Homo sapiens: one gene and its partners. The protein of the gene in region 4 interacts with the protein of the main gene of each other region in a biochemical or structural test. Each region holds a gene or a part of one and is shown on either strand. Other genes may lie near its edges.

Region 1 (6,906 bases), on a different chromosome or scaffold from region 4:
TCTTGAAGAATAGGATGGAGAAGGTGGAGCCAGGTTATTAGTAACCTCAATGTCAAGTGGATTAGTGTGAGGCCTTATAGTTCCCACACCCTGTAGGGGCCCTTACTAGGTTTTTCTCTTGAATACATGAGTGGTATAACAACTGTGTTTTGAAAATATTGATCTTATAGAAGTCTGGTCCCATGAATAGATTGAAAGAGGCAGACAGTAGAGGAAATTCCACTAAGGAGAGTTCAGTCATGTAGATCTCAGCAGGGATGGGGACCTGAACTTGGGATGGTGGCAATGGGAATAGAACAAGGGAATAAGTACGCGGCTAAGAAGAAGGGCTCGGTGCCTGCGTGACTGGAAATCAAAGAGAAGGAATCAAGCTGATTGAGTTTTAAGCCTGGAGAATCTGGATAAAGTCATTTCTTTCAATGCAAGCCAGGAAAAGCAGTCAACTTAAGAAGTAAATGGATTTCTATTTGAGGCCCACAAGCAAGGTAATACTGGAGTAACCAAGTAGAAATATTAGTTTGAGAATATGGGACTTGGAATTTGGTAAGATGATGGAAGTTGTCAGCATTCAGAGAAGAAAATGAAGTTCTGAAAAAGGAGGATGATCTCTAATAGCGTGTATGGTAAAAGGTTAGAGGACTGAACTCTGTTGGCCATTCCCAGGGAGAGAGACGGGAGGAAGGAGCCAGTAAGTGAAACAAGGAAATAATCAGCAAGGGAGAAGGGTTTTAAGATCTTTTTAAGATGGAGAAAACAAAAGCACAATGTGGCACAATGTGGGTTTTCTGATAGTAAAGGGGGAGACTTTACAGAGCGTAGTGCCACATGTTACTAAGAAGTCAGGGAAGGTAAGCCCTTTAAAAAAAAATCATAGTTATTTAAAGAAATATTGTTTAAATTCCTACAGGACTTTGGACAACATGCAGAAGTAGTTCAGGTATCTTGTTTAGCATTAAGGAAGTGAGAGTGTGCTTGTGTTGTTAGCTTCATCTTGTCGTATACCCAAATTTTGTGATACCTCAAAATGCAGAGACCGAAAATGTTCATAAATGTACTTTAATGAGATTTCTCAAAGTGAGTTATTGTTTGGAGTTGGTTAACTCTGTATCACGTATTTCGATCCTCTTTATAATGTTGGCTAAATGTTTGTTAAAGAAAAGTAGTGGAAAGGAAGATATATGAAAACAATTAGATGTTACCTTCTTGTAAGTCACATTGACCTTATTCAATACCAAGTAATCATTAGACTTTTAATTTTACGGAACAACAAATTTGCCGTGGGGAGGTTTAAGACCAATGGATCAACTATATAAACTGTACTAGCACTAGGTTTTTGCATGCTCTTCAGAGGAAATGCTTTTCCTTGTGTCTATGCATTAATCATTTACCTTTCCCAGAGTTTTGTAATGTTTAATTCCAGTGCTTCAGGGATTGTGTTTTTATGTGCAGATTTAATAGGTGGAGTTGGGGGTGTGGGCAGATATAGGACAGAATTAGAGAGAATGCTTTTCTTGGTTTTGTGGTGGCGGTTTTGTTGTCTGATGTATAATCATAAAGGCTAAAGAACATTTGTGCTTTAAATCCTATGGATCACACAAAAAATCTAATGAGAAAAGCCCTATCTTTTGATTGCTTAGCGATAAACATGTTTATAAAAAATGTATTCTTAGTCTCCACCTTGTTTATTCTGTCATTAACAATTTTTATTTAGAACGCATGCTGATTCTGCAAAATCCACCTCTTCTGAAACAGACTGCAATGATAACGTCCCTTCTCATAAAAATCCTGCTTCCTCCCAGAGCAAACATGGAATGAATGGCTTTTTTCAGCAGCAAATGATATACGACTCTCCACCTTCACGTGCCCCATCTGCTTCAGTTGACTCCAGCCTTTATAACCTGCCCAGGAGTTATTCCCATGATGTTTTACCAAAGGTGTCTCCATCAAGTACTGAAGCAGATGGAGAACTCTATGTTTTTAATACCCCATCTGGGACATCGAGTGTAGAGACTCAAATGAGGCATGTATCTATTAGTTATGACATTCCTCCAACACCTGGTAATACTTATCAGATTCCACGAACATTTCCAGAAGGAACCTTGGGACAGACATCAAAGCTAGACACTATTCCAGATATTCCTCCACCTCGGCCACCGAAACCACATCCAGCTCATGACCGATCTCCTGTGGAAACGTGTAGTATCCCACGCACCGCCTCAGACACTGACAGTAGTTACTGTATCCCTACAGCAGGGATGTCGCCTTCACGTAGTAATACCATTTCCACTGTGGATTTAAACAAATTGCGAAAAGGTCAGCTCTAGTTGACTTCTTCTCTATTAGAGGTTAATGATAGAAAATCGATTTTTCTGAATATTTGTTCTTTTAAGCGTAGTTAAATATACTATGCTACAAAATACAGTCCATTTTTTTCCAGCTCTACAGCTACCTGGAAGGGTATATTGCATTCATGCTCTGCTGGAAGGGAAAAAGAGTTGGAGTTTCTCACCCCTGAAGAAGTATGGCCTTAGTAATGCCTTCCTGCCTCAGGAAGTGTGCCCTTCTCTCTCCCACTTTCTATAATCCTGGGTGGATAGGCCCTCTGTTGGGACAGAAGGGCAGGAAATGGACCAGCCACAAAGCCTCTCCGAGTCATACCCTTTCCTGTATTTGTGTGCCATTATGGCCGCTTCTAAGTCACATCTGTTGGGCTCTATTTCCTTCCTTCCTATATAAGCAGTTTTTATGTTGTGTCTAACAGGTGATATTCTGTTCCAGTCAAGCCATTATGCTGTTTGATTTTTACTTGTGTTTAAAGAGCTGAATCTTCTTTCCCCTTATCACTACCCACTTCACTCATTGCTAGTGAGTATACTTTCCTATACTGTCTCCTAGAGTCTGTATCCAAAAGTTACAGACCTTGAGAGGAGAAGAAAAAAATGAGTCTGGGTGATTCTCTGAGATTCTCAAAGTCCTACAAATAGAAAGCTAAAGTTTTTAATGCACATATCCTAAACAGTATGTGCTAAAATTTCTGTATTTTGTGGTAGAGTTTTCCTCAGCTATCTCCAAGATTTTAATGTATCTGTGATTATTACTTAAATCAGTACTTATTTCACCATTCAATAACAGTATCTAACTCCTTTCTTGAAGTGACTGTATAACCTGGTTATCAGTTAGTGAGATGTAAGTTATGCCCAAGGTGGTGCAAACGATGAGAAAATAGAGGTGTTTCTCTTCATCTTTAGATAACCTATCTTATCCCAGACTTAGACATTCACTCACACTCAAAATTAGATATTGGTATTGGTTAGCATATGAGTGAGTGTCTGCATTTTCTAGTGGTTTAATATGCCAATTCAAGACACAGTTCTATGAGCATCCTTTTTAAAATTCTGTGTGTGTGCATGTGTGTATGCATATGTATAATGAGAGAAAGATAATAGGTCATCCCAATGACCCTGAGAGCTGGCAAAGATGGGAATAAATGTTGATAGTTTGTTCTTTATTTTAGATGCTAGTTCTCAAGACTGCTATGATATTCCACGAGCATTTCCAAGTGATAGATCTAGTTCACTTGAAGGCTTCCATAACCACTTTGTAAGTATAATTGACCTTGGCATCATCAAGTGTATTTCATTGTCTAAATCTTCATAATTAGTGCCATGAGACTAAGTGATATCATGAAATAAAAGTACGCTGAGATCCATATGAATGAGTGTGACTTACAATTGTGTTTTCATGTGTGACAAGAGTTTTTGTTTATTAAAAGAAATATATATGTGTTTTAGAAAGTCAAAAATGTGTTGACAGTGGGAAGTGTTTCAAGTGAAGAACTGGATGAAAATTACGTCCCAATGAATCCCAATTCACCACCACGACAACATTCCAGCAGTTTTACAGAACCAATTCAGGAAGCAAATTATGTGCCAATGACTCCAGGAACATTTGATTTTTCCTCATTTGGAATGCAAGTTCCTCCTCCTGCTCATATGGGCTTCAGGTCCAGCCCAAAAACCCCTCCCAGAAGGCCAGTTCCTGTTGCAGACTGTGAACCACCCCCCGTGGATAGGAACCTCAAGCCAGACAGAAAAGGTAAGGAGAGCATGGCAAAGTAAAAGGCTTGGGGAGTGCCAAGTTAGATCTATCTTTAACTGCCATTAAATCCAAAATAGAATTTGGACTAGAAATTCTGAAATATTTCATAGTTCCATAGCCATCAAGTTATTTAAGCAAAGCAGTACTGCCATTTATAAATTAACAATTATGATATCACATGTTGATGTGAGGTGATATTTATAAGTCTCCTATCTCTAGAGCAGAGGTTACAAGCTGAAATACTCACGGGGTGAGCGGACAACTGGGGAGAATTAGAAGAAACTGGACTGCCGTAGCCCCATCTAATGGGAGTAACTAACCTACACTGCTACAATCCTTTGTTGACTTGTGAAATGATGCACCCATGCAGGCAAATCTTCTGGTATATCAGGAAAAGCCAGAGATTTCAGATTTTATATGTATTATCTCTCAATTTTTAAAGTTCTATCAACTAATTTAATTATTAAGAAAACATTGCAGGCCAACCCAAACACTTCTGCAAGCTAGATAATGGCCTTCAGCTGCTATTTAGTAACCTCTTCTCCAGAGTATATAATATCAAATCAGACTTAAGATTATTAATGTATTTGACATAATTATTTAAGAACAGTGAGACTGTATAATCTTTCCATTCTGTTCATATAACAACTTCTTAAAAATTACTTTGCCTTTGCTGGGGTAATACATGCTTCTAGTCTGTCATTTTTTTTTCCATGCTGGCCTTCATAAGTAACATTAAGTTCTAAGGTAACATAGTTTGTTAAGAAGTCTGTAAAAGAAACTGTTCAGCCAAATTGGGTAATGCCTACCCAGGTTTTTTAAATTGGGGTTTAAGTTGTTAAAACACAGACAATTTGATTTGTTGCACCATGCTGTTAGTGTGGCTTAATCTTGACAACCAAGTAAATTAGCATAAATGTAAATGTGATGAATGATACAATATCTGGCTTACATTAGGGTGTTTCAGCACATTTGAAAAGTCTCATGTGCTATATGTAGCTTTTTAAGACCACATAATGTTGGCATCAATTTCTCCTTAACCTGGGCTTAGATCATTAATATTAGTTCTAATTAAGTCCTAGTTGTGAGGAAAAGAGACTGAGGCTCAGACTATCTTAAGAAAAAAGATTTGGTTTTGTTTGTAAGTAAGGATAACCTCCTCGTTTCAACAGGAGGTTAACCTCCTTCAACAAGGAGGTTATCAGGAACTGAAGCAATTCTAGGGGACTGTTGCTGTGTCCTGCTCTCTCTGTGCATTTCTGTTTTATGGGAAATCTTTGCATCTGGTTTGTTCTCTTTCACATTCTTCCCTTCTTTTCTGTTTTCTTTTCTGATTCTTTTTTGTTTTCTTACTCTGTATCCTCTACTTAAATGGATTCTGCTTTCCAAGAGCTTTGGCCTCCAATGCTCCCCTTCTATGGCCTCAGTTCTGCCTCCTAGCTGCTTTTTATGTGCCCTTGCAGCTTCTGCATCAGCTTCTCATTGCCTTACTTATTATTTACTCACTTTAGATTGCTTAGAGATGATGTGATTGGTCTATGTGTGTCACACCCACGACGACCCAGTCTGCCCTGGCAGCAGGGCTGTGATTGCGGTGTGGATCTCAGAAAGGATGTGAGCATCAGAGGCTTTCTATCGGATAATGCTTCCTTTTGTTTCCTTTTTCTTTGTCTCTAAATCTATTTTAGACAACTACTAGTCATTTTCTTTGCATATAATATGCAAAAATATGTTTGGACATGTATAGCTTTATAATTGGTTCATACAGATCACTGAAGGATTGAGATATAAGTGTCATGAACTCTTTGAAATATTGAAATATCTTTTTTAATGTTAAACTGGTGCTTTCCTTATTTTCCAGTAACGAGTGCATGTTAGTGGCAGATCTCTACTTTTTAACTCCAAACCTAACAGTTTTATATTTTGAGGTCTCGCATAAATGTGGAGGGAGTAAGATTTGGGTGAGGTTACAAAGCTTTTAAGTCCTACCTCCCTTGCTCCTCTGCTGCTCTTTTCTCCCCTTGAGCTCTGTAGAGCACAGTTTGAAAACTCCAGTATATTTCAACAGTTGTGATTCCATGTGGTAAGCATAATATGAAATCAGGAAACACCACTGTTTATAAGTTAGAAAAGACCTAAGATCAATTAATGATTAGCTTTTAGTATCCTCTAGGTCTGATATCACTCATGTATCCCACATTATTATGATATATATTTTATGTATATATCAGAATATATACTATGTATCATGTATACTACATATTTTATAATTATACATCCCTATGTATTTAGTGAAAGTACTATTATTCTAGTACACTAGAGACTAATCACACTAGTTCTTTAACGTAAAAGAACTTAATAGAACAGAATAAAGTAGGTTCTTATTTCTGGAGATTGTGTTCATTCTTTTAAAATTTAACTGAACTGTTCAGAGACAATTGTGAGTTCGTTGGCCACATTATTTATTTGGCATATTTGCTTAGATACAAAATGAACTTAAAAAGAGCACCCAGATTGAAATACCCATATAGTTTTTGCCAGAATCAAGAATAGACTTAGCAAAACAGTAAAGAGGTTCCTGAAGTCATAGTATTCAAAAAAAATTTACTTTTCTTTAGTACTATTTTACTTTTTTTTTTTTTTTTTTTTGAGACAGAGTCTCGCTCTGTTGCCCAGGCTGGAGTGCAGTGGCGCGATCTCGGCTCACTGCAAGCTCCGCCTCTGGGGTTCACGCCATTCTCCTGCCTCAGCTTCCCGAGTAGCTGGGACTACAGGCACCTGCCACCACGCCCAGCTAATTTTTTGTAT
Region 2 (6,906 bases), on a different chromosome or scaffold from region 4:
AAAAAAATAGTAACAGTAATAAAATAAAAATTATTTGTGAAGGATGTGAGCTTTCACCTAAAGCCACAGCAAATGAAACAATCTTTGTAGGTGCAGCCTCATCCTCAGATGCTTCTGGTCTCTGCCACCTCGAGCTCTTCAACATTCATTTGTGTTCTTTGCTGTTTTGTTTTCTTTTTCTTTCTTTTTTTTTTTTAACCCGACACTTCAGTAGCTGTTTTGTATACTTAAACATTTGAATAAAACTTAATTTTTAAGCATCTAATTACATCACTCCAGTTTCAGGGCTTGTGTGTGCAAGCTCCCAGTGCAGGTGGAGCAGTTGGGTTGAAAGGCCTGGTCTCTGGCTCAGGGTTGCAGCTGCATTGTTCATCCTGTGTTTTGCCTCCGGCAGAACCAAGCTTTTTCTGAAATTCTAGAGTGAAGAGGTTTAGAGGTATGTGCAGCAATACCTGGGCTATCTGATAACGTGATATTCTGGATACTAGAATTTTCCAGATAACCAAAATCGTAACCATTCATGTACTCAAATGTTACATTTTTGGCCAGCATGATGGCTCACGCCTATAATCCCAGCACTTTGAGAGGCCAAGGTAGGTGGATTGCTTGAGGCCAGGAATATGAGACCAGCCTAGCCAACATGGTGAAATCCCGTGTCTGCTAAAAGTACAAAAATCAGCTGGGTATAGTGGCGCATGCCTGTAATCCCAGCTACTTGGGAGGCCGAGGCACTTGAATCACTTGAACCCGGGAAGTGGAGGTTGCAGTGAGCCGAGATCATGCCACTCCACTGCAGCCTGGGTGACAGAGCAACAGAGCAAGACTCTCTCAAAAAAAAAAATTACATTTTTAAAAGCATTAATTCCATATTTTCCTTCTTTCTGGGGGAGAAAAACATACTAAACACCAAGTAATAATTTTTGTTCTGTAGACAGCCATAGTTCTAAGTTGATGTCAAATCTAGGAGTTGCCCTGGAGTTGTGTTTGTTGGGGGAGGGGACACTTTTTAGAGGGATTTGCCTCTGTCTTGGTAAAGGTGACAAGAAGAGAGTGTAGCTCTATGAACTCCTGGCAGGTAAATAGAGTTATCTTTTTCTGCAAAGTTATTGGTCACAAATCAAAAGTGTCCCTTTCTAATGATTACTTTGTTCTGTTTTGATGCACAAATAGGTTACAAGCAGCTCTTTGTCAGTCTGACTCTCTGTCTTCCAAGAACAAGTGTATACAGTAAAAGTAGACACACCTCACCATTTCAGGAGTTAAGACATTTTCAAAAACTCTTCATAGCTGGTATGGGTGCACGCACCTGTAGTCCCAGCTACTCCAGCCTGAGCAACGTAGACTCTGTCTCTGAAATAAAATAATAAATATTGTTTATAAGCCTGTGGGGTTTTTATTATTACTATAGGATGATGCTTTATAAGGTCATTATTAGACCACATTTTCCTTCTAGACCTTATTTTTGGTAGATAACAGAATCCTGGCCTTAAATAACTTTTAAAGTAGCTCCTTTTCTCAAAGGCTATTCAGAGTTTTCTGTGCTGCCAGTACAGGGGCAGGTGGTGGTGGCCCGGCAGGGTTCAAGCGCACTTTCCCTCCTCAAACTTGTCCTTGGTGTGTGCTTTATAATTGTCTATCAATACAGCACCATTGCTGGCTGCAGCACAATGCAGTGTTTTTAAAATGAAGACTTAAAAATTATGAGTGTACCTTGCATATATTGTTTTATCTCATTCCAGTCTTTGATGTGATTTTTTTACGAGAAACAAAATGATGACTAGAAGAAAGTTTTCATCAATACTCTATCAATATTTATGTGACTCTTGGAAACTTTGAATACACTGGGATTTACCACTAGCTAATTTTTTTTGAGAGTTTGCTACACATATTTATTAGCTCTTTCAGGATTTATCACCTTATCCTAAGCATTGAAACCCAGTGTCTGGCACCTGCAGTCAGAGTGTGGTAAGCATAGCAGATAAGCACCAGCATTGCAAAGCTCTGCAGGGCATACCCTCTGTTAAGAAAGCGTAGTCATTAATGCAGCCTGGCTAGTTGTCGATCATCTGTCATTCTTATCTACCCTTTCTATTGCATCTCACTTTGAATGGCAGTACACAGACAGCACTCACTTTAGAGCAATCCAGCTTCTGATTGGCTACGAGTACAGCATTGTTCAACATCTTGAATAAATCATTTTGTAAAGAATGTTACCAGTTTCCTCTCAGAACTTTGTTATGCAGTGTAGATTACCACTGTACTAGCCAACATTTTCCTGGGCCCACCATTTTGGGGTTGTATTCACATTTTTGTTTTATCTTTTACCAACTTTATGCCTTCTGCCCTTTGCCTTTTGTTGTAAGTCTAGAATTCATAGGGTGGCTTTCACGCTGTACCTGATTCTGTTCTGCTCCGTATATACTAGTCCCCCCTTACCTGCGGCCAGTTGCAATCCAACATATAAATAACATATTTTGGCCAATCGCAGTGGCTCACACCTGTAATCTCAACACTTAGGTAAGCTGAGGCAGGAGGATACTTGAGCGCAGGAGTTCAAGACCAGCCTGGGCAACATGGCAAGTGCCTATAGTCCCAGGTACTCAGGAGGCTGAAATGGGAGGATAGCTTGAACCCAGGAAGTTGAGATGCCATGAGCCGTGATGGTGTCACTGTACTCCAGACTGGGCAGCAGAGCAAGACCCTGACTCAAAAAAAAAAAAAAAAGATATTTTGAGAGATAACACATTCACATAAATTTTTATTACAGTATATTGTTATAACTTTTCTTTTACACTTTTTAAATATAAAGACAGGGTCTCACTATGTTGCCCAGGCTGGTCCTAAACTCCTGGGCTAAAGCAGTCTTCCCACCTTAGCCTTCCAAACTGCCAGGATTACAGGTTTGAGCCAGCACACCTGGCCTGTTAAAACTTTTCTATTTTACTACTAGTCATCATTAATCTCTTACTGTGCCTAATTTACAAATTAAACTTATAGGTAGGACTGGCATGGTGGCTCACACCTGTAATCTCAGCACTTTGGGAGGCTGAGGCAGGAGAATCCCTTGAGTCCAGGAGTTCAAGACTAGCCTGGGCAAAATAAATAAATCGGCTGGGCACGGTGGCTCGTGCCTGTAATCCCAGCACTTTGGGAGGCCGAGTCGGGTGGATCACAAGGTCAGGAGATCGAGACCATCCTGGCTAACATGGTGAAACCCCGTCTCTACTAAAAAATACAAAAAATTAGCCGGGCGTGGTGGCAGGCGCCTGTAGTCCCAGCCACTCGGGAGGCTGAGGCAAGAGAATGGCGTGAACCCGGGAGGCAGAGCTTGCAGTGAGCCGAGATCGCGCCACTGCACTCCAGCCTGGGCGACAGAGCGAGACTCTGTCTCAAAAAAAAATAAATAAATAAATCTAAAAAAAAATAAAACGTATAGGTATGTGTATAGTGTAGGAAAAAGCATAGCATATCTAGAGTCCTGTACTATCCACGGTTTCAGGCACCCACTGGAGGTCTTGAAACGTATCCATCATGATAAGGAGGACTACTGTATTACTCTACACATTACAGCGTCATGGCCTAGCCTATGCATGGCCTGGTACATGCAATTCAAGAGGCAGCATTGGAGAGAACGGTCATTGGAAATATGAAAGTCTGGGCATGATGTTAGCTCTGTGGGGTCACTACCTCGTAACCTGGGTTGACCATTGATCTTGTTTTTTTACATCTGTAGAATGCAGTGGTTCAGTTCCAGGATTTCCAAGGCATCTGCCTGAATTCTGCTGGTTGATATGCTTTCAGCACTATCTAACTTTAATACAATGTGGCATTTGGGTTATTGAACTGAGTAGGATTTGCCATGCTTTTTCCTGAAAATAGTTTTCCCATACGAGGGCATATGGTTGTCCTCACAAGCAGCAGTGTTCTGGAGCTGTTTGGTGGGTGACCCGTACTTGCGGTAACCCAGAGAAGCCATGAGGGGATCCAGGACTGTATCACTGTAGATTCTGGAGGTCGGTTGGAAGATCTCTAGAGGAGTCTAATAAAAGGTTCTGTTGCTGCTTAGTTCTGCTGTGACACCTCTCTCTCCCAGAAAGTAGACTTTGTCTTCGTCAGGCTCCCTTATTCTCCTATGTGTTTGCCATTTTCCAGAACCTCTTCTCCAGGTTTCTCTCTTAGAAAAACCAAACCAAACAAAAAAACTGGCCGGGCACAGTGGCTCACACCTATAATCCCAGCAATTTGAGAGGCCAAGGTGGGCAGATCACCTGAGGCCAGGAGTTCAAGACCAGCCTGGCCAACATGGTGAAACCCCATCTCTACTAAAAATACAAAAATTAGCTGGGCAACGTGGCATGCGCCTGTAATCCCAGCTACTCGGGAGGCTGTGGCAGGAGAATCGCCTGAACCCAGGAGGTGGAGGTTGCAGTGAGCCAAGATCGCGCCACTGCACTTCAGCCTGGGCGACAGAGCAAGACTCCGTCTTAAAAAAAAAAAACAACTAATACTTGCCATTCTTCTTTCTCCTTCCTTACTGAGGGTTTCATTCCAGATGTTTGGGAGCCTGAATTTTCATTTTCAGAGATAATTTCTGTTTCATTTTAACAGAGTTTAACATAATGCTGGTTGTTTGAAGTTAAAAGGAGTCTTATATCCGTATAACTGATAATACTTCGAGTGAAACCGTTCACAGACCTAAAAGATAGCATAATTGTCTTGTAACTATCTTTTTAAAGGGAAAAGGAAATGATTGGGTTTTTTTGTTGTCTTATTTCTTTTCAGGTTTTGAACGAAGAATGTGATCAGAACTGGTACAAGGCAGAGCTTAATGGAAAAGACGGCTTCATTCCCAAGAACTACATAGAAATGAAACCACATCCGTAAGTTAAGCTCCATTAGTCTTGGAAGGGTTGGACCCACCTCCTTGTTTCAAACACTCTTTTTAAAATTGAGATCACTGGGATGGATGTCATACTTTTTATTCACGTTTCTAGGGAATTAACAAAGGATATTGATTGTGCATGTTAATAGTATATAATAATATATCATAGTCAATAATATTATATGTTTTAGATTGATAATAACTGTCAGTGATCTTCAAAAATAAAACGATAGTTGGTGCAGGTCCGTAATTCTTTTTCTGTTAAATATGTCTTAGAGCCAGATGTGTTTTATAATTCTGCATTTTTTTTGAGTTTTAGAAAAGGTACTTAGATGATTTTGTGTTTATATGTGCTAATGCTGTGGGACGGTATCTTAATATCTTTGTATCCCCAGAGTACGGTGCTTGGCATCTAATAGTTCTCAATAAATGTTTATCCCTCCATCTTAGTGTTCCTACTTACAAGAGAACAAAATATGCTGTCCTCCAGGCTGCTGGGAGCAGTGAATATTTTTAATTTTTTTTCAGAAGCTACCCTTGTCACGATTTTATTAATAACGCAACATAGTGGACCCCTGAGAGCCCCTGCAGACCACTGTCCTCCCGTTCTCACCCACCCCTCATTCACAGGCCCTGCTCCTAGCACAGAAGCAGTTGCTGGCTTGCCTTACAAGTGTGTCAGGGGAGCTGAGGCTTTCCACGCTCAGACTAGAATGCCCTTGGACATTGTCCACTTGCTTTCACAGCAGCTGGTGGCGGAGACTTTCAGGTGGCTTGTCGCATCTTGAGTGGGAGGGGCCTGTTGGATCACAGCACATCCTCCCCAGGTCCCATATAAGCCACATAATTTGTGTACTTCTGTTTCCTTCAGTCGTCCTCAAAAGAAACTGTAGGTCAAGGGTTGGCTAAACTTTTTCTGTGAAGAGCCAGATAGCAAGTAATTTCGACTTTGTGGGCTGCATACAATCCTGTCAAATATTCCTTGTAAAAATTTTCTTTTAACAATCGAGTAGAAATTTAAAAAACAGTCTTAGGTTGTGGGCAGATTTGGGCAGAAGGCCATTATTGTTTGCTGGCTCCTTCATTAGATCCAAACACAACATCGACTTCAGTTCCCTTTTGTTTTCATATTTTCAGATTGAAAGGGAATTCAACAGAACATCATACTACACTTCTTATATGACATGCCTGTGGCTCGAAATTCTTATTTTTCTTCAGTGTTTCGGGTGACACAGGCATTTAAATCTGACTGTTGAGGAAAGATAGGAAAGGCTACCTTCCTTGGAAAGTTGTAGTTACTGCCAGGCTGACTGGGACAGTCACTCCCTTGCCTTGACCTTTTGTCCCCACTATGAAGAACTTTAGAAGAATTGATGGAGAAGCACCCAGCACAGGCTCAGCTGTGTTGTTATTTGCAGACTCTGCCCAAAGGGTGGGCAGTGCTCAGCCACTCTGAGCTCTGAAAAGGCAACTAGCAACTTAAAAACCCTTATTTATTCAGGTCTACCATATTGCTAACAAAGACCATGCTTGTGCCTATGTAGGTGTTTGGCCTTGCAGACGTAGTTGCTGTTGTATAGGGCTGCTCTGTGGCTGGATGTTCATGAGTATAGGGTCAGGGTCAGTACCAGGCCTTCTCCTCCACATCCTACCACCTCCTGTTTTTTTGTTTGTTTGTTTGTTTGTTTGTGGGGGTGGGGAGCAGGGGTTATGGAGGAAGAGGGAAGCATAAAATGTAGCACCATGTCAGCTAATGCAGCATTCAAGTTAACAAATTAGACTACAAAATGATTGTTGGCATTAGTGCTGCAGCATGAGTTGTATATGCTTGAGGGGTGGATCCAAATATGTGCTTTTCACACTAAATGCATATGGATGGGAGCCTACGGGATGTAGTAAAGAATTATATTGGAAAATTAGCCTTCTCCCCTCACCCCCTTAGCTCTCGCCCTTGCTATTTCTGTTGTATAAGCCCACCTTTTTTTTTTTTGTTTTTTGTTTGTTGTTGTTCTTGTTGTTTTTAT
Region 3 (5,051 bases), on a different chromosome or scaffold from region 4:
AAGGTACTCAAGGTGGTAATAGTACTACCAACTCTCCCTAGCTGTCCCCTTCCCCACTTTGTGCTCCTCCATCAAAGGGAAAACCCAACCCCTTTGATTCCTGATCTCATGAGCACAAATAACTTCCTCAGTTCTCAGGGTCTGTACCTCAATATGCCTATAATCCATTCCAGGACTAACGGTGCTTCCTCTTCCTGCCCTTTCAGCTGTGCTGCTTTTGGCATTCACCTATGAGGAGCGGGTTGGAGTGGGACATGGGAATGGCCTTTCCTGAGTAACTCCTTCCCATTTGCTCCTCAGAGCATAGAGCCTCTGGACCCCAGTGAGAAGGCTAACAAAGTCTTGGCCAGAATCTTCAAAGAGACAGAGCTAAGGAAGCTTAAAGTGCTTGGCTCGGGTGTCTTTGGAACTGTGCACAAAGTGAGTGACCCATAGGAATTCTGGAGAGGTGGGGAAGGCATCTAGGGCAAAGGGGTGAAAGATTTTTGCATAGGATTGACCTAGGGAGAATGACCTTATGCCAACTCCTGCCCCAAACTTCCCAGGGAGTGTGGATCCCTGAGGGTGAATCAATCAAGATTCCAGTCTGCATTAAAGTCATTGAGGACAAGAGTGGACGGCAGAGTTTTCAAGCTGTGACAGATGTAAGTGAAGGAAATTCTGTATGCCGCTAGGAGAGAGGACAATATTAGATACAATCATGTAGAAGCAGGGTCCTGTGCTTCTCAGCAGCTACTATGTTAGCCAGAATGTTGGGGGTGGGGGGGCCTGGGCTGGCTGTGCACATGCTGAGTGTATGTGAACCTGTTGGTTTCCTAGATAATACCTTTTGTGTCTCTTAGCATATGCTGGCCATTGGCAGCCTGGACCATGCCCACATTGTAAGGCTGCTGGGACTATGCCCAGGGTCATCTCTGCAGCTTGTCACTCAATATTTGCCTCTGGGTTCTCTGCTGGATCATGTGAGACAACACCGGGGGGCACTGGGGCCACAGCTGCTGCTCAACTGGGGAGTACAAATTGCCAAGGTGAGAGAAGCCTGGAGGAATTCTGTGATAAGAACTGCTTGTCTGGGGGCCAGCCAGGAAAAAGTGAGAAGGTTGAAGTTCTGAGAGGTGAGGTCCCCAACCCCCGGGCTGCAGACTGGTACCAGTCCATGGCCTGTTAGGAACCAGGCCACAGAGCATGTGAGCGGCAGGCAAGCGAGTGAAGCTTCATCTGTATTTACAGTCAGTCCCCATCACTTGCATTACCGCCCGAGTTCCGCCTCCTGTCAGATCAGGGGCAGCATTAGATTCTCTTAGGAGCTTGACTTCTATTGTGAACTGTGCATGTGAAGGATCTAGGTTGTGCACTCCTTATGAGAATCTAACTAATGCCTGATGATCTGAGGTGGAAAAATTTCATCCCAAAACCAACCCTCCCCTTCCCCTGGAAAAACTGTCTTCCACAAAACCAGTCCCTGGTGCCAAAAAAGGTTGGGGACCACTGCTGAGAGGTACCTTCAAGATTTGGGGGAATTCCAGATCTCAGTGACTGATTCCCCCAACCTTAAGAATACTTTCTTCCCCTATACCTACAGGGAATGTACTACCTTGAGGAACATGGTATGGTGCATAGAAACCTGGCTGCCCGAAACGTGCTACTCAAGTCACCCAGTCAGGTTCAGGTGGCAGATTTTGGTGTGGCTGACCTGCTGCCTCCTGATGATAAGCAGCTGCTATACAGTGAGGCCAAGGTGAGGAGACACAAAGGGTAAGGAGGCGGGGGTGGAGTGAAGCATGGGGATAGGGAGCAGCCAGTGGTCTCTTCCAGAGGCAAGCAGATGCTTCATGGTAAGTTCAAGGAGAGAAGGCTGCAGATGCCAGATATTTTAGTTCAGAGGGCAACAAATAAAATAATGATCAAGAACTTGGGACTGGCCGGGCGCGGTGGCTCACGCCTGTAATCCCAACACTTCGGGAGGCCAAGGCGGGTGGATCACAAGGTCAGGAGATCAAGACCATCCTGGCTAGCACGGTGAAACCCCGTCTCTACTAAATATACAAAAAAAAAAAAAATTAGCCAGGCGTGGCGGCATGCATCTGTACTCCCAGCTACTCGGGAGGCTGAGGCAGGAGAATGGCGTGAACCCAGGAGGCGGAGCTTGCAGTGGGCCGAGATCGCACCACTGCACTCCAGTCTGGGCGACAGAGCGAGACTCCGTCTCAAAAAAAAAAAAAAAAGAATTTGGGACTTGGAAATCCTAAGAAAATTTGTGGAAATAAACTTGTGATACCTCTATCTTTAATCCGCAGACTCCAATTAAGTGGATGGCCCTTGAGAGTATCCACTTTGGGAAATACACACACCAGAGTGATGTCTGGAGCTATGGTCAGTGCATCTGGATGCCCTCTCTACCATCACTGGCCCCAGTTTCAAATTTACCTTTTGAGACCCCCTCTTAGAATCTCTAAGCACTTCAGATTTTTGTGTTAGATCAGGTTCTGCCTTCCCTTCACTTCATGCCCATGTCTACTATTTTGCCAGTGACTAGTCCATGTCTTCCTGCAACAGGTGTGACAGTTTGGGAGTTGATGACCTTCGGGGCAGAGCCCTATGCAGGGCTACGATTGGCTGAAGTACCAGACCTGCTAGAGAAGGGGGAGCGGTTGGCACAGCCCCAGATCTGCACAATTGATGTCTACATGGTGATGGTCAAGTGTGAGTTACCTGCTGAGCCCAACCATTTTCTCTTTTTTTCTTTTTTTTTCTTTTTTTTTTTTTTTTGAGACAGAGTCTCACAATTGTCACCCAGGCTGGAGTGCAATGGTGCAATCAATCTTGGCTCACTACAACCTCCGCCTCTCGGGTTCAAGAGATTCTCCTGCTTCAGCCTCCGGAGTAGCTGGGATTACAGGCGCCCGCCACACCTGGATAACTGTTACACTTTTAGTAGAGATGGGGTTTCACCATGTTGGCCAGGCTGGTCTCAAACTCCTGACCTCAGGTGATCCGCCTGCCTCAGCTTCCCAAAGTGCTGGGATTACAGGTGTGAGCCATCATGCTCGGCCTGACTGCAGCCATTTTCTGACTTCCCTCTGTACTCCTCTTATGGCTCTATTCCTTTTTTTTTTATGGAGTCTCGCTCTGTTGCCCATACTGGAGTGCAGTAGCGTGACCTTGGCTCACCGTGACCTCCACGTTCCAGGTTTAAGTTCTTCTGTCTCAGCCTCCCAGATAGCTGGGACTTTAGGCGTGCACCACCACGCCCAGCTAATTTTTTTTTGTCTTTTTAGTAGAGATGGGGTTTCACTATGTTGGCCAGGCTGGTCTCAAAGTCCCGACCTCAGGTGATCCACCCGCCTTGGCCTCCCAAAGTGCTGGGATTATAGGTGTGAGCCACCGCGCCCGGCCATGGAATGTATTCTCTTTTATGTCTCTACCTCCTACATCTTATCTCCAGGTTGGATGATTGATGAGAACATTCGCCCAACCTTTAAAGAACTAGCCAATGAGTTCACCAGGATGGCCCGAGACCCACCACGGTATCTGGTCATAAAGGTGAGTAGGGAGTAGGAGGTGCTAAGGAAATTTAGAAAAAGGAGGAGTTGGCTGGAACCAGGATTCCCCCTAACAATCACCTATCGATATAGAGAGAGAGTGGGCCTGGAATAGCCCCTGGGCCAGAGCCCCATGGTCTGACAAACAAGAAGCTAGAGGAAGTAGAGCTGGAGCCAGAACTAGACCTAGACCTAGACTTGGAAGCAGAGGAGGACAACCTGGCAACCACCACACTGGGCTCCGCCCTCAGCCTACCAGTTGGAACACTTAATCGGCCACGTGGGGTAAGACAACTTCTAATTACCCAACACTTTGCACCCTGAGCCCTCACAAACCCTACAGATACCCAGATTAACTACTCAAAGGCCCCCATGGTGAATGTAGATTTCTCCCTTCATCTTAACCTTTTCCTTATTTTTTCATCCTAGAGCCAGAGCCTTTTAAGTCCATCATCTGGATACATGCCCATGAACCAGGGTAATCTTGGGGAGTCTTGCCAGGTAAGTTCTGTTGCTGAGAGGCTGGGTTTTAGGATCAGATTGATACGAGTAGTATGGAAGACATTAGAAACCTCTGAGGTTTAATCAGTGTCCTGCAAAAAAGAAGGCAGTGAGGGCCGGGCGAGTTGGCTCACACCTGTAATCCCAGCACTTTGGGAGGCCAGAGAGAGTGGATCACCTGAGGTTAGGAGTTTGAGACCAGCCTGGCCAACATGGTGAAACCCCGTCTCTACCCAAAATACAAAAATTAGCTGGGTGTGGTGGTGCACACCTGTAATCACAGCTACTCAGGAGGCTGAGACAGGAGAATCGCTTGAACCCGGGAGGCAGAGGTTGCAGTGAGCTGAGATTGTACCACTGCACTCCAGCCTGGGTGACAGAGCAAGACCCTGTCTCTTAAAAAAAAAAAAAAAAGGCCAGGTGCGGTGGCTCACGCCTGTAATCCTAGCACTTTGGGAGGCCGAGGTGGGCGGATCATGAGGTCAGGAGTTCGAGACCAGCCTGACCAACATGGCAAAACCCTGTCTGTACTAAAAATACAAAAACTAGCTGCACATGATGGCAGGTGCCTGTAATCCCAGCTACTCGGGAGGCTGAGGCAGGAGAATCACTTGAACAGGGAAGCAGAGGCTGCAGTGAGCCAAGATAATGCCACTGCACTCCAGCCTGGGCGACAAGAACAAGACTCCACCTCAAAAAAAAAAAAAAAAAAAAAAAAAGGCAGTGAACAACCCAATATCCTTCTAAACAAATCTCTCTTCTTTCCTCATCATGTAAATTTCCTTGCATTATTTTCTGTTTATTTTCTTCCTTAGGAGTCTGCAGTTTCTGGGAGCAGTGAACGGTGCCCCCGTCCAGTCTCTCTACACCCAATGCCACGGGGATGCCTGGCATCAGAGTCATCAGAGGGGCATGTAACAGGCTCTGAGGCTGAGCTCCAGGAGAAAGTGTCAATGTGTAGGAGCCGGAGCAGGAGCCGGAGCCCACGGCCACGCGGAGATAGCGCCT
Region 4 (6,305 bases):
ATAGGAAGTAAAGAATAAAGACTAAAGGTATTTGAAAGTCCCTGTCTCTTACCTCTCTCCCTGACTGAATATTCAGCTAGCCAATTATCTAAAAGACAACTGGTATTTCATTTGGAAATGTTGGCCAATATTCTGAATATTTTACTTTATTCAATATGTAGCTACTTGGAAGTCATCCAAACAATTAATAAACACTTAAAAATTTTACTGTGGATGTTTGTCTTTATCTAAAAAATCGAGAAAATAAAATCAATTGATAGTAACTGCTAAACTCATGGCACTGTTGTAAAACAATCACCACTTTTAAAAAGTGATTCTAAATACATTTAATGAGTGTGAACTTGTAGCACTTTTGTATACTCAATGAATTTAATTTCATGATCTGTGTTACATTTGTTTTTATCTTTCCTTCAAAACTTTAATTATTTTTCAGAACAAAATTTGTGATAATTTTAAATTAAAACCCATAGACAACAAGGATCAAAATTTGGAAAAATAAGTATGTATGGAGAGAGCCTAGCATGAAATTTCATTATTAATTAGGCACTAAGTTAACTCTAAGCTTACCAGGAACCAAGTAAAAATGGAAATATGAAGGTTTATAAAGCTTTCTTTATTTGTTTAAAAAAGAAAACAAAACATAATTTTGTTTAGGAGATGACTATTTCCTTGTACTAAATTTCTAAGGTTAATTTATTACATCAATTCTTGTATCTGAGACTTGTGCAAAGTAAGAGATGATCTATGTTTTGTAAAGAATGTAGAAAAATGCGTTGTATGATAGTTTTACATTTAACGGTAAATAAAAAGCAATATACTATAATATTTTATCATAACTCAGTGAAGTAATCTCTCTAAGTAGCTATGCTAATTGAGGCTGTCAGTGTGTTTTTCTTCGTACTTAATACAGCAAAGTCCAAGGTCTGCCACCTTGAAGGTTACAGCCTTTGTTAAACTAGATTTTTTTGTGCAGAATGTCAGCTGGGGTGTAATAACTTTTACTAACTTGAGAATGAGAGAAGATGGGAGGAGTGGAGCTCAAATTTAACACAAATGCCAAAGTATAATTCATCTATGTTTTCTTCCTCTAGTACTTTGGAAGTGTTGCTGAAATCATCAGGAATCATCAACATAGTCCTTTGGTTCTTATTGACAGTCAGAATAACACAAAAGATTCCACCAGACTGAAGTATGCAGTTAAAGTTTCATAAAGGGGGAAAAAAAAGATCAATACCATTGCTTCAGACACTTTCCCAAAGTTTCTCCTTTTGAGAAAAAGTCCCAAAACTTCATATTTTGGATTATGAATCATCCAGTAATAAAATGGAAGATGGAGTCAGCTATTGAAGTGGTCATCCATTTCTTTTTAAGAAGCTCATGTGGACTTGTTCTATTGCCTGACCTGATGAACTGTTAATATCTGGTGAGGTTGAGTTATCATGCTACTAATATTTTCCAAATAAATATTTTTATTTTTAAAAATAAGTGTAAAGTATATTATCAAAATAAGAAAATAATGCTCTTGCATAAAACAAAGTGGCTGGAAATTTAAACCTCCACAATGATCATTGGTACACTAATGTAGCTGGGCTCTCCACTGCCAATGCTTGACAATTAAGTCTTGGTTAAAATTTTAATTTGTAGAAAATAAGGTATTAAAGGTAATGTATGATATCTGTAAGTATAGGCAAGAAGGATGTAATGGTTCCTTTTTGTGAGCACTCTCAACCATGGGATATATATATATATGGATATGAACTTTCTATAAGTTCTTGTCTAGGATTATGCTGTTAGTTTTGCTTACTAAAGATAATTATACCCTCTTTGATCTACATGTCTATCAAATAGAACCTAAACTTGATATGAGGTTTGTATTAGTCCATTATCACGCTGCTAATAAAGACATACTCAAGACTGGGTGATTTACATAAAAAAAAAAAAAAAAAAAGAGGTTTAATGGACTCACAGTTCCACATGGTTGGGGAGGCCTCACAATCATGGCAGAAGGCAAAGAAGAAGCAAAGGCATGTTTTACATGGTGGCAGGCAAGAGAGCATGTGCAGGGGAACTGCCCTTTATAAAACCATCAGATCTCATGAGACTTACTCACTATCACAACAACATGGGAAAACCTGCCCGCGTGATTCAGTTACCTCCCACCAGGTCCCTCCCATGGCACGTGGGGATTATGGGAGCTACAATTCAAGATGAGATTTGGGTGAGGACACAGCCAAACCATATCAAGTTTCAAAGTGGAATGACAGCAAAGCTAGACTAAAAGCCAGTTCCTAGAGAAATATCCCACAAAACAAGAGCAGAAAAGCAGACATTGGTGAACACCAAGGAATAAAAGAGATACCATCGTGGAGAATCAGGTCCAAGGTCTTAGATCATCCCAGAAATGTATCATACTTTGTCATATATTTCTACTGTGTACTTCAGACAGCAGTGAAGTGATAAAGCAGCTAATTAAGTCTAATAATTAAATGGGGAACACACTTGGCCACTGCATAAGATAGCAATCTATGAAAGTATGTTGAAAGGCCAGAAGGTAATAATTTCAGGGTAACTCATGACTCACTTCTAAAGATAATTGTATATTTAAATGTCATAAACTTTCATAATTGCCACCTATGTTACAGATTGAACTGTGGTCCCCTCAAAAAGATATGTTGAAGTCCTAATCCATAAGGCCACATATCTCAGAATGTGACCTTATTTGGGAATGAGGTCTTTACAGATATAGTCAAGGTAAGATGAGGTCAGTAGGGTGGGCCTTAATACAATGGCTGGTGTCCTTATAAAATTAGGAAATTTGGATGCAGGCACAGAGAGAAGACTATATGAAGAGACACACAGGAACAATACTACTGGCGTGATTCCATCCTGTATGGCTGTTCTCTTGAGCAGTGGTCGTTTATCTCCGTCTGCTTTCTCTCCCACCTAAGTGTGTGCCGCCACCTGATGGAAGATTCGATGGACATGGACGTGAGCCCCCTGAGGCCCAGAACTATCTTTTCAGTTGTGAACTAAAGGCCGACAAAGATGATCACTTTAAGGTGGATAATGATGAAAATGAGCACCAGTTATCCTTAAGAACGGTCAGTTTAGGGGCTGGTGCAAAGGATGAACTGCACATTGTTGAAGCAGAGGCAATGAATTATGAAGGCAGTCCAATTAAATAACACTGGCACCTTTGAAAATGTCTGTACAGCCAACAGTTTCCCTTGGGGTCTTTGAAATAACACCACCAGTGCTTTTATGGTTGAAGTGTGGTTCAGGGCCAGTGCATATTAGTGGACAGCATTTAGTAGCTGTGGAGGAAGATGCAGAGTCAGAAGATGAAGAGGAGGAGGATGTGAAACTCTTAAGGATATCTGGAAAGTGATCTGTCCCTGGAGGTGGTAGCAAGATTCCAGAGAATAAAAGTAAAACTTGCTGCTGATGAAGATGATGATGATGATGATGATGATGATGATGATGATTTTGATGATGAGGAAACTGAAGAAAAAGCACCATTGAAGAAATCTACATACTCCAGCCAAAAATGCACAAAAGTCAAATCAGAATAGAAAACACTCAAACCCATCATCAACACCAAGATTAAAAGGACAAGAATCCTTCAAAAAACAGGAAAAAACTCGTAAAACACCAAAAGGGCCTAGTTCTGTAGAAGACATTAAATCAAAAATGCAAGCAAGTATAGAAAAAGGTGGTTCTCTTCCCAAAGTGGAAGCCAAGTTCATCAATTATGTGAAGAATTGCTTCCGGACAACTGACCAGGAGACTATTCAAGATCCTGGCAGTGGAGGAAGTCTCTTTAGAAAATAGTTTAAACAATTTGTTAACATTTTTCCATCTTATTTCATTTCTCTAACAGTCAATATCTGGCTGTCCTTTCTATAATGCAGAGTGAGAACTTTCCCTACTGTGTTTAATAAATGTTGTCCAGGTTCCATTGCCAAGAATGTGTTGTCCAAAATGCCTGTTTCATTATTAAAGATGGAACTTCACCCTTTGCTTGGTTTTAAATATGTATGGAATGTTATGATAGGACATAGTAGTAGCAGTGGTCAGAACATGGAAATGGTGGGGAGACAAAAATATACATGTGAACTAAAACTTGGCATTTTAATAAAGTAGCATGGTTTCTATTGAAAAAAAAGATTACGACATGAAGATGAGGGACTGGAGTGATGCATCTGTAGGCCTGGGAGCACCAAAGATTGCCTGCAAACCATCAGAAGCTAGGAAGAGGCAAGAACAGACTTCCCTCCGGGTTTTAGAGGGAGCATGGCCCTGGTGGCACCTTGATTTTGGACTTTGAGTGTCCAGTACTTGAAGACAATAAATTTCTGGCTTTTTAAGCCACCCAGTTTATTATGGCGGCCATAGAAACCTAATAAAATTTATATGCATTTTTTACATTCAGGTATATAGGGGTTTGGGAAATTTTGTATGGAAAGGTTTTTTTTCTCCTTTTAGGAAAACCATTGAATCATTTTGAATGTACTAGAAAGGATGACTCACAATTTAAACTGGGAAACTGGGGTAATTTTTTGGTAAAGCAAAGCATCTGTTTGTAGTATGTGGCATCAGCTCTCTAGCTTCAGTTTTCCTCAGTGTTACACGGAATTATTTTCTATTTAAGTAAATCCTCATTAATTCCCACTGCTACCACAGCAACCCTGGCTCTATAACAACCTCTTATGCCTCATTCTTCCTCTCCTCCTCCAAGTGTCCTACTCCAGCTAGGTAATAGCATAGCTGTTAAGATTATACTAATCCTCAGTTGGTTGACATACAGTACTGCGTGGTGGATTTCTTGGAGCAGAGGCTGGGAGAATTTCTGAGAGATAGGCCATTCTCTGCTAAGGGCTCTACTCCTCCCCAAAGCTGGGAGAACTACCCAATCCAACATGCCAGTCTTTTCCCTCATCTTGCAGAAGAGTCCACTGAGGGTGATCCCACCTGCTTCTCTAAAGCCCACCTCTGCAAGTGGTATTCTTGATGAGATTAGAAAAGTCTTTAAGAGGCTGGGCATGGTGGCTTACACCTATAATCACAGTAGTTTGGCAGGCCGAAGCAGGTGGATCACTTGAGGCCAGGAGTTCAAGACCAACCTGGTCAACACAGGGAAACCCCATCTCTACTAAAACTAGAAAAAATTAACTGGGCATGGTGGCACTCGCCTGTAATTTCAGCTACTACTCAGGAGGCTGAGGCATGAGAATCACTTGAACCTGGGAGGCGGAGGTTGTAGTGAGCCAAGATCATGCCACTGCACTCTGGCCTGGGCCACAGAGTGAGACTCTGTCTCAAAATAAACAAATAAGAAATTTCAAACACCTGTCTGTGATCTCAATGTCTCAATGGCTGACAAACAAATGGTTTTGCATAAAGAAATTTTCAGGCAAGCTAGGTGGTGGAATAGGAGACACTAGTCAAGAAGTACATGTGTAGCAGCTGAAGAAGGAAAAAAACCACACCCCAGTTCTTGTCTTCTGTTGAAAAGTAGATTGCAGCTATGGTAGTAGGAAAGATTTTCAAGTTTGTTCAAAAGGACAATAGACATGAAAAAGCTACGCCTGTGTCCAGCACAAGCCTGATTGTGTGTTATCATAAGTTAGCCAGGGCAATGGTTTGGAGACCTTGCACTCTGGGAGCTAAACTACTCTTACTGTAGTAGCTGGGATAGTCTTGCCTAAAAGAAAGTCCCAGAGAACAGAATTCAGCGATGTGAGGCAAAACCAGCACTACCTGAGACATGTTCTTAAAAAAGGACTGAATTCCTCTCCTTCAAAATGGTCTTAAGACACCATATAACTCAGCCTCTATTTCTAGGTAAGGGTAAACAATATTTTTCCAGTAATGATTCAAGAGCTAAAGTAAGCTAGTGGTGCCTGATAAACATTACCTCCTAGTCCCCTAACCAAAATCTTCTTTGCAGACATAAAAAGTGATCTGTGGATAACTCTTTAAATGAACCCATCTATAAATATTTTAGAACACTTAGTAATTATAATTGTGTATTAGGAAAATCTCAAATATTTTCTCTACATCTGTGGTTCTTAATCTTTTAGTAGTTACAAAATTCTTTGAGAATCTGATGAGAACTGTGGGTCTTTGGCCTGAGGAAAAATTCATTTATGTATATACACAGAAACTCACATCAAATATCATGAGATTCCTGGGCCTCTGTGGCCTATCCATGGACAAAATAGCCAAACATCCAAGACTAAGGACTCAACATTTTTCTTAACCTTTGATGCATCAAGATGGACATATTATTCTACTAAATATGT
Region 5 (6,906 bases), on a different chromosome or scaffold from region 4:
TAAGGTTACCCTGATGATGTAAGGATAGAAAGTGAGTCTTAGCTGGAATCAAGCGCTTGAAAGGAAGCGGCGCAATGAACGGTTTTGAGACTGTCGACTACCGGTCAGTTTCTCTATAAAGTCTCCAGGCGCAGTCTGCAGCGTCCTGGACTTGTAACTATTGTGAGGGCTTTCCTGTGGGGGGCAGAGAGGCCTTGCATCTGGACCCCTGTGCAGCAGGAGGGGTCAGCAGGGGTCACGAGGGAGTGTTCGGATTCTCTGGAGGATTTGATCACCTAGCTTAAAACAACACATCTGGTCTTTATGTTTTTGTGCCTTGACCTTTTTAATATCAGTTAAGCTATGTGAACTAGAACCTAGTAGGAGACTAGAAAGACCACATCGAATATCTCCCTTTTAAAAAATTAAAAGAATCAATGGTTTTCTTCTCCCCAATAGATTTTTGGCAAAGGGAATTTTAAGGTCTGTCTCCTGGGGGGGCAGTGTGGTGTAACGACAAAGCCTTGCTCTGTCCCCTGGGTTCTCGGTTTCTCTGCCATTTCTTGGCTGCGTGCCCTTGGCCAGGTTGCTTAGGGCAGGTTGCTTAAATTCTGGGAAACGCAGTGTCCTCCAGAGTACAAGGAGGCATCTGCATCATGAAGGATCCTTTGGGTCCAGAATTCTCCTCCAATGTTCTGAGTGTAGACTCAGCACTCTTTTTAACTATTCCCCTGGCCCCTGTCTGCCTCTTTGAAATTCCTCTGCCTCTCCTGCTCACAGGGAAGTCATAGAGTATGGGTGCATCTGACCGGTCTGCCCCTGACTGAAGCAAGGAGCTGTGGCTTATGCTTACTGCCCTTCAATTCCCATATATTCCTCTGCATTGCCCTTTGAGGGCCCCCGCCCCCCAAGTATTACAGCTCCTGTGCCTAACAGGATGAACCTGCTAGGAATAGTGAATCATACCTTCCCCGTTTCGTTCCTGCAGGTGTGAGGCTGGAGTCATTCTCAGCAGCTGGACACAAGGCACTCTAAATTATTATCCTGCTGGAAATAAGAGACCCCAGATAATTCATTTATCCCTATTCTGTTTTTTCCCCCACTCATTCCCATTTTTTTTCTCATGACTCTGTAAATCATGTAATGCTATGCATTTATAGCATGCTTTCTAATGGGCCTTAAGTTTCGTATGACATGTGTGGTGTACATAGTTGTTGCTCTTCAGTTGGAAACTGTGTGCCAGGCCTTTTGCTTGGGGCTTTACCTATTTCTAGTAGTCTCAATGAGCCTAGGAAGTAGTACTATTATTACCCCTAACATTTTACAGCTGGAGAAACTGGCTAAGGATAAGCCCTAAATCATCAGTGGTGAAGCCTGATGAGATTGGCTGCATGTGCCCAGCTCTATAGCCATTCACATGATTCACCAGAATCTGTTGTAAGACTCATTCAAAAATATTTAATGAGTTTTTACTATGTGCCAGGGATTGTTGGAAGTTCTGGGAATACAGGATGGCCAATGTCACTACCTTCCCAATTTTGGTGAAAAATATTTAGAATTGCGTGTCTTATGAAAGCGGATTATTTGTGGAGGGAGGATTAATTAAATTTTAGCTTGGAGGAAGGGCTGTAGGCATTTGACCCTGTGGTATGTTGGCTTAGTTGTTAGCTATCTCATTCCAGTTAGCGTCCCTCAGAAATGAAGGTAAGCTGTTTCTAAAAGGATGATGCAAGCCAGTTAAAAATCCATCTCCCACTCCAAAACATAAAAATGGTCTTGTGCATAGGTGTGAAAGAGAACACCCCCAATAATGGCTGATGTCATTGGCTATTTACCCTGGATAGCATGGTGAGAAATAATGACAATCTACCATCCAAAGCCATTTTTTCTCCCAAAAGAAATTCTCATCAGAAATGTGCCAAGTATTCTGCGGGCTTCCCTTGGAGAACATTTATGTACAGATGTTGTGGTGGTGATGAATTTTGCTGCTGTTGTTGACAGCCCTTCGAAGTTACCCTTAGGGTTTTGACTCATTTCCTCAAGTCTCTTCCAGCTGATTAAAGAAGGACACGAGGAAATGAACCTCGGTGTCTCTAGCGGAATTCTCAGAGCTGGCCTGCAGTGTGGGGACCCCTTCAAGGTAGTGGTCAAGGCTGTGGCAGCTTTTTCTTCAGAATGAATGTAGTTTAAGAGTTGGCAGGCTAGGATGTGGGAAATGCTTTCTTTTGCTGCATTAATGTGCGGTAACTTTTAAAAGTTGAGATTGAATGACATTTGCAGGAATCCAAATATGCAAATTTCATGTGCAGTTTTGGTAACTTGAATAGATATTGCCACAGCTATAAGTCCGGATTGAAGAAGGCCTGGGGAAGAGTTAGAGGAGGTAAAAGTTTGCCTGGAGGGCAAATCCAGTGTAAATCTTTGTTGTACTTAGAGAGGAATTGAGTTGAGTCATAGAGAGGAATTGAGTTGAGTCGGCTTGGCCCAGCAGCTCTGATTTCTGACATTTTTTGGATGTGATCATACAGCTCATCTTTTGACCTAAGACTCTTAATAAGTAAAGAGCAGTTGTAATCTGATAGCCCGAGGAGACATGTTTTCTTTGGCCTACATGATGCTTTTTAGAAAACATTGAGGCGATATTAAACAATCTAGAGATTTTTTTTAAATCAAGATCTCTATTTCTGTCTCCTCTTTAAGAATTGAAGGTCATGGCCCCTGTAGATGAGGCCTGTGCTCTTCAGGTTGCATTAGGCTCTAGGGCTTTATCCTGCCATCCCTTAGGCATTCCCCACTGGGCCCTGGTGAGTGCAGGAATCCAAATATGCCCCTGGGACCAGGCAGATGACAAGTGGGAGGAGACAGGCCGGCCTACCTTGTGTTGGTCTGATGGCTTCATGACTGACAGCTTGATGGCCTTAGAGCAAATTGTTTAACCTTTTTGAGCTTTCATTGTCCATCCTAGTTTTGCCACTTATTAGCTCTGTGACTTTCGGCAGATTACTTAACCTCTCTGTGCCAGTAAATGTGTTGCTACATGTAAAACTTTTAGAGTGGTGCCTCATAGTACAGGCTCAATATGTGTTAGCCATAATTATCGTCTGTAAAACAGGAATTATTATTGTCCCTAAAATGGGAATAATGCCTACTCTTTTAAGATGATTGCCCTAAAGATTAGAAAGGCATTTTTTTTGTTTGTTTTAAAGACAGTATCTTGCCCTGTTGCCCAGGCTGGAGTGCAATGGCGCAATCTCGTCTCACTGCAACCTCCACCTCCTGGGTTCAAGCGATTCTCCTGCCTCAGCCTCCTGAGTAGCTGGGATTACAGGCACCCGCCACCATGCTCGGCTAATTTTTGTACTTTTAGTAGAGATGGGGTTTCACCATGTTGGCCTGGCTGGTCTCGAACCCCTGACCTCAGGTGATCTACCTGCCTCGGCCTCCCAAAGTGCTAGGATTACAGGCATGAGCCACCATGCCTGGCCGACAGTTTTAAAAATAAGCTTTAATTTTTTTGGTCTTGTTTTATTTAGCTTTTGATAAGAGTTAGGAAATCACTAGTCCTAGAGATTGAATAGATCTTGAACTTTTTTTTTCTCCAGGGGGGAAAAAAAAAAACTACACATCTTGTAAGATTCTCCAACATAACATTTGTGTCTGGTACTTTTCCCATTCATCTTATGTTTTAGCTTTCATGCTTACATTTTGGTTATGACACACTTTTGTTAGACATCTTCCCATGCATACCTTTCTGACAGGTTTTCAACATTTTTGCAAAATTTAAGGTTTAAGCCAAATTATTATTCAGGACATGTGGCATCAGTTAATTACGAGCTTGGGCTCTGAAATTGACACGCTGGATTTTTATTCCAGTTCTGCCTCTTCCCTGCTGTGTGCTCTGGGACAAGACACTTAACCTCTCCTTAAGCTTCATTTCCTCATCTGTAAAATGGAGATGATGACATAGGGCCCCTGCGAGGATTAAATGAGATTCTGCATGTAATATGCTTAGCATAGTGCCCCGCATAGAGGAAGTGTGTGGACTCCACTATCAGGCTGATTTTCTTATGTTCCCCTTTCAGCTTTGCCTCTTAGAAAAAAATTGAAAACGTGTAAACAGAATATGTAGAGTGGTTTTTTTTTTTCGTATTAAGATGAAGTTGTTAATTAGTGGTAATGCATGTTTATCTGCTTGGCTCTTTGTTTAGCCGTATTCTTGGGTTACTTTCCACCAAAAGAGATACAAATTTCTTGATAAAAGTTTAGGTTGGGGGAATGTCTGCAAATGGCCATTTTCTGTAGGTGAATAAGTACATGTAGTTCACCTAGGGTCCATGAAAGCAGTCAAGGAGCTTTTCCATGACTGCTTTCACTAGGAGTTCAAGGACCAAGCTGAACTTGTCCATTGCCCCAGGCTAGACACAGCGGTTAGTGTTCAGTAAGTATTAGTTTAACATCTTTTCTATTCTCCAGCACTTACACTAAGCTTTGAACATAAATGGTCAGTAAACATTTTGGATTCAGTTTAACAAAGGCTTATCAATCCCCATGCCTTGGTCCTACGTTACAGGCTGGGGGTGGAGGAGGGCCAGGGCAAGAGCACAGCCCCTGATTCGAAGTAGAATTTGGTTTTCTTAAGTGTAAAGTGCTCTGGGCAGGATTTTCAAGGAGATGAGCTTAAATCTTGATGGGCAGGTAATAGAGATCAGGAATCAGTAAGAGCATCCACATAGGAGATAATATTTGAGATTAATTTCTGAACCTTAAAGGAAGAGGGCAGTGTAGTTGTGGCTTCAGCTGAAAAAAACTACAGTACAAGGAACAAGGCATTAGGATCTTACTTCAGGATTATCAAACCTTTCTATTGGTATGATGGCTGGGGGTAGGGAATTGGCTGGGAAGGTAAGACTCCTCTTACTAGCCTCAAGGAGCATGGAGGGAATGTGTATTTAGTGCTGAGTTTGGTCTAGGTTATGAAGAATGCTTTGAAGTCAAGGCTAAGGTGGACTTGACCCAGGAGTGGCCCCCCAGGCTTTGCATACTAGTCCAGGGCTGCCTGTTCCACCATTCTGTCCAATTAGACATACTCCCCAGCCTGTTCCAATAGTCTGACGAAGCGAGAGGCCAAGCCCTGCCTTAAAACTTGGACACTCCCTTGCTGTGGGCAACCAAGACTAAGGGAGAGTCTGTTTTTATTATTTATTTATTTATTTATTTATTTATTTATTTATTTATTTATGAGACAGGGTCTTGCTCTGTTGCCAGGCTGGAGTGCAGTGGCACGATCATAGTTCACCGCAGCCTCCACCTCCTGAACTCAAGTGATCCTCTCATCTCAGCCTCCTGAGTAGCTGGGACCCCAGGCGTGTGCCACCACACCGGCTAATTTTTTTATTTCTATTTTTGTAGAGAATAGTCTCGAACTTATGAGCTCAAGCGATCCCCCAGCCTCAGCCTCCCAAAATGCTGGGGTTACAGATGTAAGCCACCACACCTGGCCTGTTTTTTTTTTTTTTAATAGTAAAACATACATAAAATGAAATTTACTACCTTAATCATCTTTAAATGTATATTTCAATAGTGTTAAGTACATTCATACTGTTGAACACTTTCATCTTGCAAAACTGAAATTCTATACCCATTGAAGAGCAGCTCCCCTCTCCTTCCCCCAGCTTCTGGCAACCACCATTCTACTTTCTGTCTCTGAATTTGACTATTCCAGGTAACTCGCAAATGCAGAACCATACTGAATTTGTCTGTTTTTTGACTGGTTTATTTCACATACCGTAACATCCTCAAGGTTCACCCCTATTGTAGTATAAGTCAGAATTTTCTTCCTTTTTAAGACTGAAAAATATTCCATTGTATGTATAGACCACATTCTGTTTACCTGTTCCTCCTTTGATGGACATTTGGGTTGCAAACAATGCTGTAATGAACATTTGCATGTAAGTATCTAAGGGAGATTTTTCGTGGAGACTATTTAGGAGGGTTAAACTCATGGCTGCGAGCTACATGTTGGGGAGCTGGGCAGAAGATGGGCTCTTTAGATTATCTCTGAGTGAAGGGGTAGTGGACCTGGGTATTAGGGTACATGCTTTGGAAAGAAAGCGCCCTTAAGAGACACGAGGAGGATAAAGGTGCAGGTCTTCTCTCATTCGGCGTATTTATGGGCACCTTCTGTGTGTCAGGCACTGATGAGATTGAGGGGAAGGAGAACTGGAATTATCATGGGTGTAGGTAACTGGGAGTATTGTTGATACTATGGAATTAGTGGAAATAAAGCCAAGAGGAGGGGTGGCCTATTTGAGGGAGAGAATATGATGTTGGACTCTGCTGGGTTTATTCATTGATTATTTGTGAGCTGCATTTTCTTGAAACTCAATTTCACAGACATGGAGGGAAGACGTCAATGAAATCTTAGGGTCAGGTCCCTGTAAGAAATAAAACTAAACCCCAAAGTCACAAAACATGGCTCTATAATATTACGGTAGCATTGGGGATTATAAAGAATGGTATGTTAACTGTGAACCAGTCTTATGGTGAAAAGTAAGTTTTCATGAAAAGGAGTGTATACTAGGAAGAGAATCCTGTATTCTTCTCTGCATTAGGCCATGTTTAAGGTATGTTTTTTGTTTTTCTCAGAATAAAATGGCCATACTGGGTATAGAGGAGGACATAGAATTGACGAAAGCTTTGGGAAATAGGTCCTTTGAAAGCAACTTAAAGAAATTGGATTTATTAAGCCTGGAGAAGATAAGGTGAGGGAAGGTTTAGTGAATGACAGTCTTCAAATATTTTTAGTGTGTGAGTGAAAAGTAGAACAAAATGAGAGTCATTTAAATTGCCCCAGAAGGAAATTGAAAATTTTTTTGTTTTTGTTTTTTGTTTTTTTTGTTTTGTTTTGTTTTGAGACAGAGTCTCACT

The links.
Region 1: the proteins of BLNK (region 4) and GAB1 form a complex in vitro, tested with the Homo sapiens proteins (one large-scale study listed by BioGRID and IntAct).
Region 2: the proteins of BLNK (region 4) and GRB2 form a complex in vitro, tested with the Homo sapiens proteins (3 studies listed by BioGRID and IntAct, with this or other methods).
Region 3: the proteins of BLNK (region 4) and ERBB3 form a complex in vitro, tested with the Homo sapiens proteins (one large-scale study listed by BioGRID).
Region 5: the proteins of BLNK (region 4) and KIT form a complex in vitro, tested with the Homo sapiens proteins (one large-scale study listed by BioGRID and IntAct).

The regions. Positions count from the first base shown.
Region 1 is NC_000004.12:143,436,288-143,443,193, forward strand, and holds part of GAB1 (GRB2-associated-binding protein 1), read left to right. Parts: intron 1-1,711; coding exon 1,712-2,313; intron 2,314-3,514; coding exon 3,515-3,600; intron 3,601-3,791; coding exon 3,792-4,095; intron 4,096-6,906. UniProt on the Homo sapiens protein: Adapter protein that plays a role in intracellular signaling cascades triggered by activated receptor-type kinases. Plays a role in FGFR1 signaling. Probably involved in signaling by the epidermal growth factor receptor (EGFR) and the insulin receptor (INSR).
Region 2 is NC_000017.11:75,330,674-75,337,579, reverse strand, and holds part of GRB2 (growth factor receptor-bound protein 2), read left to right. Parts: intron 1-4,782; coding exon 4,783-4,880; intron 4,881-6,906. UniProt on the Homo sapiens protein: Non-enzymatic adapter protein that plays a pivotal role in precisely regulated signaling cascades from cell surface receptors to cellular responses, including signaling transduction and gene expression.
Region 3 is NC_000012.12:56,096,203-56,101,253, forward strand, and holds part of ERBB3 (receptor tyrosine-protein kinase erbB-3 isoform 1 precursor), read left to right. Parts: intron 1-300; coding exon 301-420; intron 421-545; coding exon 546-644; intron 645-842; coding exon 843-1,028; intron 1,029-1,582; coding exon 1,583-1,738; intron 1,739-2,297; coding exon 2,298-2,373; intron 2,374-2,556; coding exon 2,557-2,703; intron 2,704-3,445; coding exon 3,446-3,543; intron 3,544-3,635; coding exon 3,636-3,827; intron 3,828-3,971; coding exon 3,972-4,043; intron 4,044-4,858; coding exon 4,859-5,051. UniProt on the Homo sapiens protein: Tyrosine-protein kinase that plays an essential role as cell surface receptor for neuregulins.
Region 4 is NC_000010.11:96,186,879-96,193,183, reverse strand, and holds the end of BLNK (B-cell linker protein), read left to right. Parts: intron 1-1,091; coding exon 1,092-1,211; 3' UTR 1,212-4,013; downstream 4,014-6,305. UniProt on the Homo sapiens protein: Functions as a central linker protein, downstream of the B-cell receptor (BCR), bridging the SYK kinase to a multitude of signaling pathways and regulating biological outcomes of B-cell function and development.
Region 5 is NC_000004.12:54,659,409-54,666,314, forward strand, and holds part of KIT (mast/stem cell growth factor receptor Kit isoform 1 precursor), read left to right. Parts: intron 1-6,906. UniProt on the Homo sapiens protein: Tyrosine-protein kinase that acts as a cell-surface receptor for the cytokine KITLG/SCF and plays an essential role in the regulation of cell survival and proliferation, hematopoiesis, stem cell maintenance, gametogenesis, mast cell development, migration and function, and in melanogenesis.